Linked DNA regions of Homo sapiens: region 2 is linked to region 1. Evidence: fine-mapped expression QTL. A gene starts in region 1. The other region holds a variant in brackets. All regions are shown on one strand. Distances are from middle to middle.

What was found.
Region 2: its variant is fine-mapped to the expression of CDR2L in aorta (GTEx, PIP 0.96). The same link has a PIP of 0.9 or more in fibroblasts.

What each region holds. Positions count from the first base shown.
Region 1 is chr17:74,984,754-74,990,125 of GRCh38, forward strand. It overlaps CDR2L (cerebellar degeneration related protein 2 like), which reads left to right and starts at 2,879. Exons shown (of 5, transcript NM_014603.3): 1 at 2,879-3,369. The coding sequence starts at 3,291. It overlaps LOC124904058 (a long non-coding RNA gene), which reads left to right. Exons shown (of 2, transcript XR_007065906.1): 2 at 1-96. RefSeq lists an enhancer at 2,717-3,218 and silencers at 2,785-2,864, 2,885-2,974.
Region 2 is chr17:75,017,827-75,023,178 of GRCh38, forward strand. MRPL58 (mitochondrial ribosomal protein L58) reads left to right here. Exons shown (of 6, transcript NM_001545.3): 3 at 1,874-1,933; 4 at 2,487-2,569; 5 at 2,662-2,831; 6 at 3,095-3,435. The coding sequence ends at 3,179. Among named protein-coding and RNA genes, the nearest start is that of MRPL58, 7.8 kb to the left of the region's middle. RefSeq lists an enhancer at 2,002-3,201. The variant C/T (reference allele first, on the strand shown) is at 2,568.

The DNA of each region.
Region 1 (5,372 bases):
GAACACAGCTTCTACCAATGCTTTGACTTTAGCCAGTGATCCTTGTCAGACTTCTACAGAATTATAAAATAATAAATTTGTGTTGTTTCAAGCCCATTAAATTTGGGGTCATTTGTTACAGAAGCAATAAGAGACAAATACAGGTATTTACTCTTTGTGTCTGGCATCTTTCACTCAACTTTTTTTTTTTAGCCCAAGCCCATGACAGTAGATCATTGTATTTGTACTATATAACATTCCATTACATGAACATGCCACATATTCTTCGTCAACTGTTGATGGACATTTGTGTTGTTTCCAGTGTGGGCGCTTATGAATACTGTGGCTATGAACTTTCTTGTACATGTCTTTGGGATAAGGTATGTGCATATTTCTCTTGCACATATATAGGAATAGAATTTCTGGGTTATAGGGTATGCATGTATAGTGGCTGCTGTGATGTATCCCCAACTCTTTCAGAACGAAAGGACCTATTCCCTTAGCTGCTGGGAGGACCCCTGGCTGGCAGTCCCAGCTGCCAGGGCTCTGTGCAAACTAGTCTCAGCTGAAAAGAACTTATTTGGCCAAGGTCACACATGCCTCCTAGGAACGACCTGTGTCATTCAATGACTGGTTGATATGTAAGGGTGGGGGATATAAAGGCCCCCTCCCCCAATGATACCTGGAATAGCTTTGAAGGGTCACCCTGGATTCAAAGTTCTTCAGGGATCAGAGGAGGCTTTTGCAGAGGCTACATACCAACCCAGCTTCTCCCCCACCAACCCTGCTTCCCTCCCTTTCCTGCAGGTGTTGATCATGAGAGCACTCCCTAGTCAACTTTCTTTCTTTTTTCTCCCTCTAATCCAATATGATTGATATCCCTAATCAACTTCCTGCATGCTAATCTCCATCTCAGGATCAGCTGCCTGGGAACACAACCTACAACAGCTTACGTTATTCAGCTTTCATGGTTATCAAGCAGTCTTTTTTTTTTTTTTTTCCAAGACGCAGTCTTGCTCTATCGCCCAGGCTGGGTGCAGTGGCGCAATCTCAGCTCACTGCAACTTCCGCCTCCCAGGTTCAAGCAATTCTCCTGCCTCAGCCTCCCAAGTAGCTAGGACTACAGGCATGTGCCACCATGCCCAGCTAATTTTGTATTTTTAGTAGAGACAGGGTTTCACCATGTTTCCCAGGCTGGTCTTGAACTCCTGACCTCAAGCGATCCACCCTCCTTGGCCTTCCAAAGCGTTGGGAATTACAGGCATGAGCCACCACGCCCGGGCAGTTTTCTAAAGTGGTTGTCGTCCTATGTATTCCCTCCAGCAGGGTGAGAGAGTTCCAGTTGCTCAACATTCTTGCCAATACTAGGTATTTTTTGTCTTTTTTTTTTTTTTTTTTTTTTTTTTTTTGAGACAGGATCTTGCTCTGTCACCCAGGCTGGAGTGCAGTGGCATGACCACAGCTCCCTACAGCCTCAACCTCCTAGACTCAAGCAATTCTCCCACCTCAGCCTCCCAAAGTATCTGGGACTACAGCCGTGTGTCATTATGCCCACCTAATTTTTATTTTTAAATTTTTTTATAGAAATAGGATCTTGCTATGTTGCCCAGGCTGCTCTTGAACTCCAGGCTCAAGTGATCCTCCCAACCTCGGCCTCCCCAGAGTTCTGGGATTATAGGCATGAACCACCACGCCTGGCCTTTTTTTTTTTTTTTTTTTTCCCTAAAGCCACTCTGGTGATTGGGTAGTGATACCTCATTGTGGTTTTCATTTGCATTTTTCTGATGGCTAAAGAAGTTCAGTACCTTGTTGCATATTTATTCAGTTATTTGTGTATCCTTTTTTGTGAATTACCTGGTCAAATCTTTTACCCACTTTTCTACTGGGTTGCGTGCCTTTTTCTTATGACTATGCAGATGTTCTTTCTGTATTCTGGATACAAGTCATTCGTTGGGTATATCACAACATTATTCAGAGATTCTCAACGGCACCAGCACATTAGGGTCCCAATAAAAATGAGTTACGTGAATGCTTGAGTCCGAACACTCTTCTAAGGAAAGAATGCTTGGACAGATGCAAGTGTGTATAGTTTTAATGGGTATAATTGGATATAGGATATGGGTCCCAAGGAAAGGAAAACAGAACCTTGAATGCAGGTAACACACCCTCAAACTTTGCCACTTTCAGCCTGTGGTTTCTAGCCACAAGCACTTAAACACGCAGTTCCCAAAGGCAACTGTAAATTAGTATTCATTCATTCAAAGAATGTCGATGGAAGGTATCAATGACCAGCATGTTGTTTGTTTTTTGTTTGTTTGTTTTTTGAGGCAGAGTCTCCCTCTGTCGCCCAGGCTGGAGTGCAGTGGCGCTATCTTGGCTCACTGCAACCTCTGCCTCCAGGGTTCAAGCGATTCTCCTGCCTCAGCCTCCCGAGTAGGCATGCGCCACCATGCCCAGCTAATTTTTGTATTTTTAATGGAGACGGGGTTTCGCCATGTTGGCCAGGCTGGTCTCGAAACCCCTGACCTCAGGCGATCTGCCCGCCTTGGCCTCCCAAGGTGCTGGAATTACAGGAGTCAGGCATCGCGCCCGACTGGTGAGCAGCCTGTTCTAGGAAGTGAGTAGCCAGCTGTGAAAGAGAAACAATATTCTTGCTTCCAGGAGATCTAGGAGAGACGACAACTTCTAAAATAGCATAATTTTAGACATGAGACATAAACTGAATAGGTCGTAGGGGGAAGTAGGACGAAAGGGTTGATCAAGCAATTCCCAGACCAAGACACCAGGAGGGTCCCGCCCTCGGCCCCGCCTCCAGCTTTGCATACATCTCCTGATTGGTCGGCGGCGGCAGGCCCCACCCCGCGGAGCCGAGCTCCGCAAGCTGCAGGCGGGCTCCGCCAAGATGCAGCGGCGGCTCCGGTTGTCGCCGGGCGGGCCAGGAGCAGCGCGGACCCGAGCCGGGCAGGGGGCGCCCGCCACGGCACCCGCGCGCTCCTAGCGCCCCAGACCCGCCTGCGGGCCCGGATCCTCCTTGCCACTGTCCCACCCGCCGTCCCTGCCACTCCACCCTTTGTGTCGCCGCAGCCCGGTGCCCCCGGCTCTGCGGGACCCCGGCCGGGCCGGACCCTGGCAAAGCGCCAGGCCCCGCGTGGGCTCCCGGCGAGCGGTTGATGGCGAGGGGGCGCGGCGCGGGCTCTGTAGCCCGAGTTCCCGACGCTGGAGGCCCGGCCCGCCTCAGCCGCATTGTCCCGGGCCGCGCGCACCGGCCCTGAGCTGCGCCGCCGCAGCACCCGCCCGCCGCCCGCGGGGCCATGCGGAGAGCCGCCGGGATGGAGGACTTCTCCGCGGAGGAAGAGGAGTCCTGGTACGACCAGCAGGACCTGGAGCAGGGTGAGCGCGGGGGCGACCGGGACAGGAAGGCGGGGAGCGCCCGGTGACCCCTGTCCGCTTCTCCATTGTTGGGCGCTATCACCCCGGGAGGGGCTGGGCTGGACCGGGCGCGCCCGACTCGGAGGAGGGACGCGTCTGGAGAACCGGGACGTGGAGAGAGGGGGCGCTGCCGGAGAAGACGCGGACCGGACGGGCGGAGACCTGCAAAAGTGGGGGGCGGGGGGCGGTCTTCCTATTTTCCCAGACGACCGGGCATCCGTCATCCAGCTCGCCCACCCCGTCCTGGAGGCAGCAACTGCTCGGCCGCCCCTGGTATTGTTACGGGGCCTGAGCGCTAGCTAGGAGTCTTCTGAGGCCGGGAGGCGGCTCCTTCGTCATGTTTTGCTGGGAGGGTGGCTTGTGTGTAGAGGGAAGTTATCTCACGCCAAATCCAGCAGCACCCGTCCCTGACAGGAATTATGAGCTCTAAGACTCCTAGAAAGTTTCCCTAACTCGCTTCCTACTCAGGGAGAAGTGGTACCGCGTCTTTGCTGGTGAAGAAGCAGAAAGTCAAGTCTCCCATCTGCCTTCGAGAGTCAGGAGTCGCTTAGCCCTCCCCTGCCCGGTCCCCTTGCAAATGGCTCATGGTTTGGAGGGGGTCAGGTTCGGGAATCCCGGCCAGTGTGCCAGGCGAGAGACCGAATAAAGAGGGATACATCTCCGCTGCCCCCAGTTGCCATCTGAGGACAGAAAGGGCGACTGGAAGGGGGTTAGAAGCTGGTGATGAGGTGGCCGAAATGACATCACTGGGAGTGGGGGGTGGGGCTGTTGGGACAGAAAGGAAGAGGAGGCCTGCTGGAGTGGAGTCAGTTCTATCCTCTCCTCCCCTAAGATGCCTCCTTCTTGGATGGTGAGAGCTGGAAGGGGCGAGGAAACATGTCCAGGGAGAAGTGACCTTCCCATGGCCTCCAGCAAGCTGGGGGGTGTGGACATAAGTCTGCTGCAGTTTGTGCCATTGTGGCCTGCTGTGGTGTGCCCACACCCTGGTCTCCATCCACAAGGCTCCAGAGGGCTGGCTTTGCCCTGATGTGCAGCAGCTATCCGGATTCTGAAGCCCCTGACCTACTTCCCCACATGGCCAAGACTGGCTGGCAGATGAGGCTCTGTCCTTGTGCTGAGGACAAGGGTTAATCATAGCCTCAGGGGGACCAGGGTGGGACTGGGGATGCTGGACTAGGCCCTGCCATGGTCTGTGCCCTGGACTCTGGCCTCAGCCTCCTTGGCTGAAATGAGATACAGCTCCTCTCAAACACACACACACACACACACACACACACACACACACATCCACACATTGTGACAACCCCCTCTCCCATCCTGGGCAGTAAATTTTTCCATGAACACCTATTAGGCTCCCCTTAAGTACCAGACACCATCCTGGGAGCTAGGAATAGTCACAGCCCTGACCCTGAAGGTATACCCTGGCAGGTGAAGGAGGCAGGCTTGTAACTAAGTGTAGGTGGCACAGTATTTTTTTCTTTTTTCTTTTTATTTATTTATTTATTTATTTTCAGACAGAGTCTCCCTCTGTCACCCAGGTTGGAGTGTAATGGTGCGATCTCAGCTCACTGCAACCTCCATCTCCCGGGTTCAAGTGATTCTCCTGCCTCAGCCTCCTGAGTAGCTGGGACCACACCTGGCTAATTTTTGTATTTTTAGTAGAGACAGGGTTTCACCATGTTGGCCAGGCTGCTCTCAAACTCCTGACCTCAGATGATCCACCCGCCTTGGCCTCCCGAAGTGCTGGGATTACAGGCGTGAGCCACCACGCCCGGCTGGTGGCACAGTATTATGGGCAGTGGGGAGGGCTTCCTGGAAGAGCCAGGCTTAGAAAGAAAGATCAGAAACTGAGTTCTTGAGAAGATGGTTTTCAGGGAGGCCGATGCCAATATTGTTGCTGTCTCACTTAATTCCTGCACCCCTAATGAAGGCTTTGGCACTGTTCCTGGCCCAGAAATGGGAAA
Region 2 (5,352 bases), 33 kb after region 1:
GGCACAAGAATCACTTGAGCCTGGGAAGCAGAGGTTGTGGTGAGTTGAGATCGCACCACTGCACTCCAGCCTGGGCGACACAGCGAGACTCTGTCTCAGACGAAAAAAAAAAAATCAGTCATTTCTCTAATCCTTCACACATTCCTTCCAGATCTCTCCAGCCCAATTAAAGTAAAGAGACTATCTCGGGTGTGCAGAAGTAGAATCTTTGCAGCATTATTTAGAATAGCAAATAAATGATGGTGTGGCCAGTCGCATCGTACTGTGCCGTGTGCCACGTGAGTGTAGAGCTCTTGACATTCTCATGACGTGGAGCACTCTTTACAATAGATGAATTGAAAGAGGAAGACACAGGAGAGTTTATAAGCTACCATTTGTTTTTTACATATCTATATCTCTGAAATATCTTTTTTTTTTTTCTTTGAGATGGAGTCTCGCTCTGTCACCCAGGCTGGAGTGCAGTGGCCCGATCTCGGCTCACTGCAAGTTCCGCCTCCCAGGTTCACACCATTCTCCTGCCTCAGCCTCCCGAGTAGCTGGGACTACAGGTTCCCACCACCACGCCCGGCTAATTTTTTGTATTTTTTAGTAGAGACGGGGTTTCACCATGTTAGCCAGGATGGTCTCGATCTCCTGACCTCATGATCTGCACACCTCAGCCTCCCAAAGTGCTGGGATTACAGGTGTGAGCCACCGTGCCCAGCCTGAAATATCTATTTCTGAATATCTGTATCTATATTTATATCCCTATCTGTGTAGAGAGATATCTATATCTGAAAGGAACACCCTGGATACAGTGACTGCCTGGAGGAATAGAGAGATAAGACAAACTTGGTGGCTGAGAGACAAGAGTGAAAGACATTTCCATGTAAATAAACCATTTACATAACTGTAAAATTTTTTACCTGTCAAGCATAAGCAAGGCCTAACAGTTACAGCCTGTAAAGAAACAATGAGCCTTTTTTAGATTCGGAGAGTGTATGACTTCCATAGACAGTGCGAGGAAGAGCAGCCAAAGATGCTGGCTCCCTGTGGCCCTTGCTCAAGATGACTCAAACAGAGGCCAGATGACCACAACCCAAGGGACAGGACACCCTGTGGCTGAGGAGCGAATACCATGCTGCAGTGAAGCAGTTTTGTAGCTTGAAGCTGTGCCCGCCTGTAGTCTCAGCTACTTGAGAGGCTGAGGTGGAAGGATCCCTTGAGCCCGGGATGTTCGCTTCAGCCTGGGATGTTGAGGCTGCAGTGAGCCGTCATTGTGCCACTGGACTCCAGCCTGGGTGCCAGAGTGAGACCCTGTCTCAAAAAAAAAAAAAATGAAGCTGTGCCCTAAGGGGTGCATGTGTGTAGGGGAGGAGGCAGAAAGCCTCCTATCTCATCAGAACTGGAGGCGAAGAGAAGTGTCTTGTGACAGCCTCCTAGGGGGAGACAGGCAGGCAAGTGGGCAGTAGCTCGGTAGTAGCTCCTCACCAGCCTCCCACACTCTCATGGATCCCGAAGCGTTCCATTCCTATGAAGACTTTGGTCAGCTGCAGCTCAAGCTTTGGCCATGTGCAAGGTTGCCAGCAATCACCATGGCAGAACTGTTCCCCTGCAGTGGCACGTGTACTTGTTACCTAGTCAGAAAGTGGATTTAATTTGATTTTTCCAAAGGAGGAAATCCTCTTAAAAGCAGTCCCAAGATGAGTCACTACTGCTCACTGGGACCAGCTCTCTGCCACCGTGGTGCCACAGTTCCTTGCCACCCAAACTTCTTGCAGTTTTTGAAATTTTCCCAATATAATACCTTCCCTACATTCCTCAGACACAACAAGACTGCTTTTCATGCCATGAGGTAATCAGTTTTGTGTGTGTACTTTCTTCTGTTTTACAGATCGCTTGACAATATCTTATTGTCGGAGTAGTGGTCCTGGGGGGCAGAATGTGAACAAAGGTACGGGGTGCCTTGTTGCTTTCTTTTGCTTTAAAATGTAGCTGGGAGATGGGCTTGAGGAGCTCTGTGTTTGTGTTCATATGGAATAAAGGGATTTTTCAGCAGAAGCTTTAATACTGCCAGCTTATAATAATCCTCTTTATTCTTTTGAATGTGGTCTGATTCTCAGACATTCAGCTGTGGGTTGCTAGGACTAGGATCGGCTTGTGAGTCTAAACAAAGAGAAATCACAGTTGTGAGGTGGCAGCCAGCTCCAAGAACAGGTTTCTTTCATTCTGGTGCAACCCATTCCCTCCATTTTTTTTTTTTTTTTTTTTGAACCCAGTAAAACTGTAAGAGAAGGACTGGGTGCTTAGTTACTGGAAGTCTATTTTTGCCCAAAAGTGCCTCACTGTCTTTGCGGGCTTGTTCATAGCCAACTTGGACATAGGCTACAATGTACATGGTTAGGTGTCTGGCCTCCCTTTATTTCAGAATGGTCACTGGTCACCCAGGGGTTGATCCTTCCTGGAAGTCTCAGGCACCCATGCTCCCTTCTCCCTTTCCTCCACAGTGAATTCCAAGGCAGAAGTCAGGTTCCATTTGGCAACTGCCGAGTGGATCGCGGAGCCCGTGCGGCAGAAGATAGCCATCA[C/T]GGTAACCACCATCCCTTTCTTTCCCTAGAAATCCCTCAGTGGCTTTTAAACCTTTACTCTGTAGGACTCCAGTTTTTCATTTGTTCTCTGCAGCATAAAAACAAGATCAACAGGTTAGGAGAGTTGATCCTCACCTCTGAGAGCAGCCGCTATCAGTTCCGGAATCTGGCAGATTGCCTGCAGAAAATTCGAGACATGATCACTGAGGCCAGCCAGACACCGAAGGAGCCAACAAAAGAAGATGTTAAACTTCATAGAATCAGGTACCAGGAAATGCCCTAAGATGCTATAAACTGATTTGTGTGGACAAGAGTCTACACAGGTAAGGAAGGGGCAGGGGAGAGTCCAAGGCCGGCCTTGGGAGAAACTCTAGGAAGAGGAGAGGATGCTGACCTGGGACCGAGGCCTGCGGGCTAGTGCCTGCTGGTGTAACTGCTCGGCTTCCCGTTGAGCTCCCAACTCCTCTCACCACTTTGAAAAGCACTGATTGGGCATCTGGGGCTAATTGCAGTCTTTTTGTTTTCAGGATAGAAAACATGAATCGGGAAAGGCTGAGACAAAAGAGAATTCATTCTGCTGTAAAGACAAGCAGGAGGGTCGACATGGACTGAAATCACCCTCTGCAGCTGGGAGGGCTCTTCTGGGCGTCCGGGCAGCTGCAGCTGAGAGGACTTTCACACCATAAGGAGATTTCTGTTTTTCTTTTTGGCTGTTAATGCTTGTCTATAACATTGGAGCCATCACAAGAATGTTCATTTGGAATGAAGGCTGCAGGCACTGGTTGCAGACGTCTTTATAGGCAGTCACCATGTTGTCAAACCTTAATAATGCACCTCATGTATTAGTCACAATAAAAATCAGAACTCATTAGGCTTCCCTTCTCATTCAGAATGCTTCAGAAAACAATTCCTACCTTTTCTCTCAGTTAAATCAGCCGCACAGTTATCGACACAGCACTGGGGAACAGGAAAGGGTTCTGGTGTCTGCTGTGAAAGAACACACAGGCCAGGCGTGGTGGCTCACGCCTGTAATCCAAACACTTTGGAAGCCAAGGCAGGAGGATCACACGAGGTCAGGAGGTCAAAACCAGCCTGAGCAACATAGCAAGATCTCATCTCTACAAGAACTACAAAAATTAGCCAGGTGTGGTGATACATGTCCATAGTCCCAGCAACTTGGGAGGCTGAGGCAGGAGGATCACTTGAGCCCCCCAGGAGTTCAAGGTTGCAGTGAACCATAATTGCACCACTGCAGCCTGAGTGACAGAGCAAGACCGTGTCTCAAAAAAAAAAAAAAACCACCGGGCGTGGTGGCTCACACCTGTAATCCCAGCACTTTGGGAGGCTGAGGTGACCAGCCTGGCCAACGTGGTGAAACCCTATCTCTACTAAAATAGGTGGTGGGCACCTGTAATCCCAGCTACTCGGGCCGAGGCAGGAGAATTGCTTGAACCCAGGAGGGTGACGTTGCAGTAAGCCAAAATCACACCACTGCACTCCAGCCTGGGCAACAGAGCCAGACTCCGTCTCAAAAACAAAACAAAAAGAAACTACACACACAACCAGGTAGGAGGGCTGAGACAGGTAAGTGGGCATTTGAGCCGGGCTATGGAAAAGGCATGGGACTTTCATCAGTAGACGGGAGGCGGACATGCCATTTGAAGGGAACAATGAACACAAGAGACAAAAGAGGCTGAGGTGGAGGGGGTGACAAAGAAGGCAAAGGCACTGAATGGTGGATTCGTGCAGGGTGATCCACCATTGCAGCGGGAGGTGAACCCAGAGAGAGACCGGCTTGATGTGGAGAGCCTTGAATTCAAGTTAAGGAGTTTAGGTTCTTTTATTTTTGAGATGGAGTCTCACTCTGCCATCCAGGCTGGAGTGCAATAGCGTGATCTTGGCTCACTGCAACCTCCTTCGCCCAGGTTAAAGCGATTCTCCTGCCTCAGCTTCCCCAGTAGCTGGGGTTACAGGTGCATGCCACCATGCACAGCTAATTTTTGTATTTTTGTAGAGATGGGGTTTCACCATGTTGGCTGGGCTGCTCTTGAACTCCTGACCTCAGGTGATCCGCCCACTTCGGCCTCCCAAAGTGCTGGTATCACAGGCGTGAGCCACTGCACCCGGCAAAGGTTTTAAGAGATGTGGGTAACAGAAAGCTGTTGGGAGAAAAGCTGAGCGTTGGGAGAAAAGCTGAGTGTTGGGAGAGAAGCTGAGGCAGGGCTTGCATGTCTGCTAGACTTGCTGGCTCCTTGCTTCTAGCACTCCCATTCTCTCAAGCAGCCGTATGTTTCTCCTTCACTTGATACACTTTCTTTTCAACCCCCACATCCTCACCACCTGTTTCTTTGAGCACCAATAAATACCGTGGGCTCCCAGAGCTGGGGGTCTTCACAGCCTCAACACTGGCGATGGCTTCCTGGTGCTACTTTCTCTCTCAAACTGTCTTTTTCTAATTCCTTTGACTCCGCCGGACTTTGTTGCCCCCATGACCTGGTGTTGGGTCTGATCACCTCAACATTCCTGGCTGCCCAACGTGGGGTGACAAAGACCCTGGTGAAGGAACGCTAGAGCGTGTGAAAGCGGAGAACACATCGTCAAAGGACACCCAAAGGCGTCTAAAAGAAGCTCGGCAGGAAAGCTGAGCGCTCGGAAGAACCAGGGTAACAATGGGATAAAGTGAAAGACATTTTGCTTATTTAAATTTATTTTATTATTTTTTTTTTTTTGAGAGGAGTCTTGCTCTGTCGCCCAGGCTGGAGTGCAGCGGCGCGATCTCGGCTCA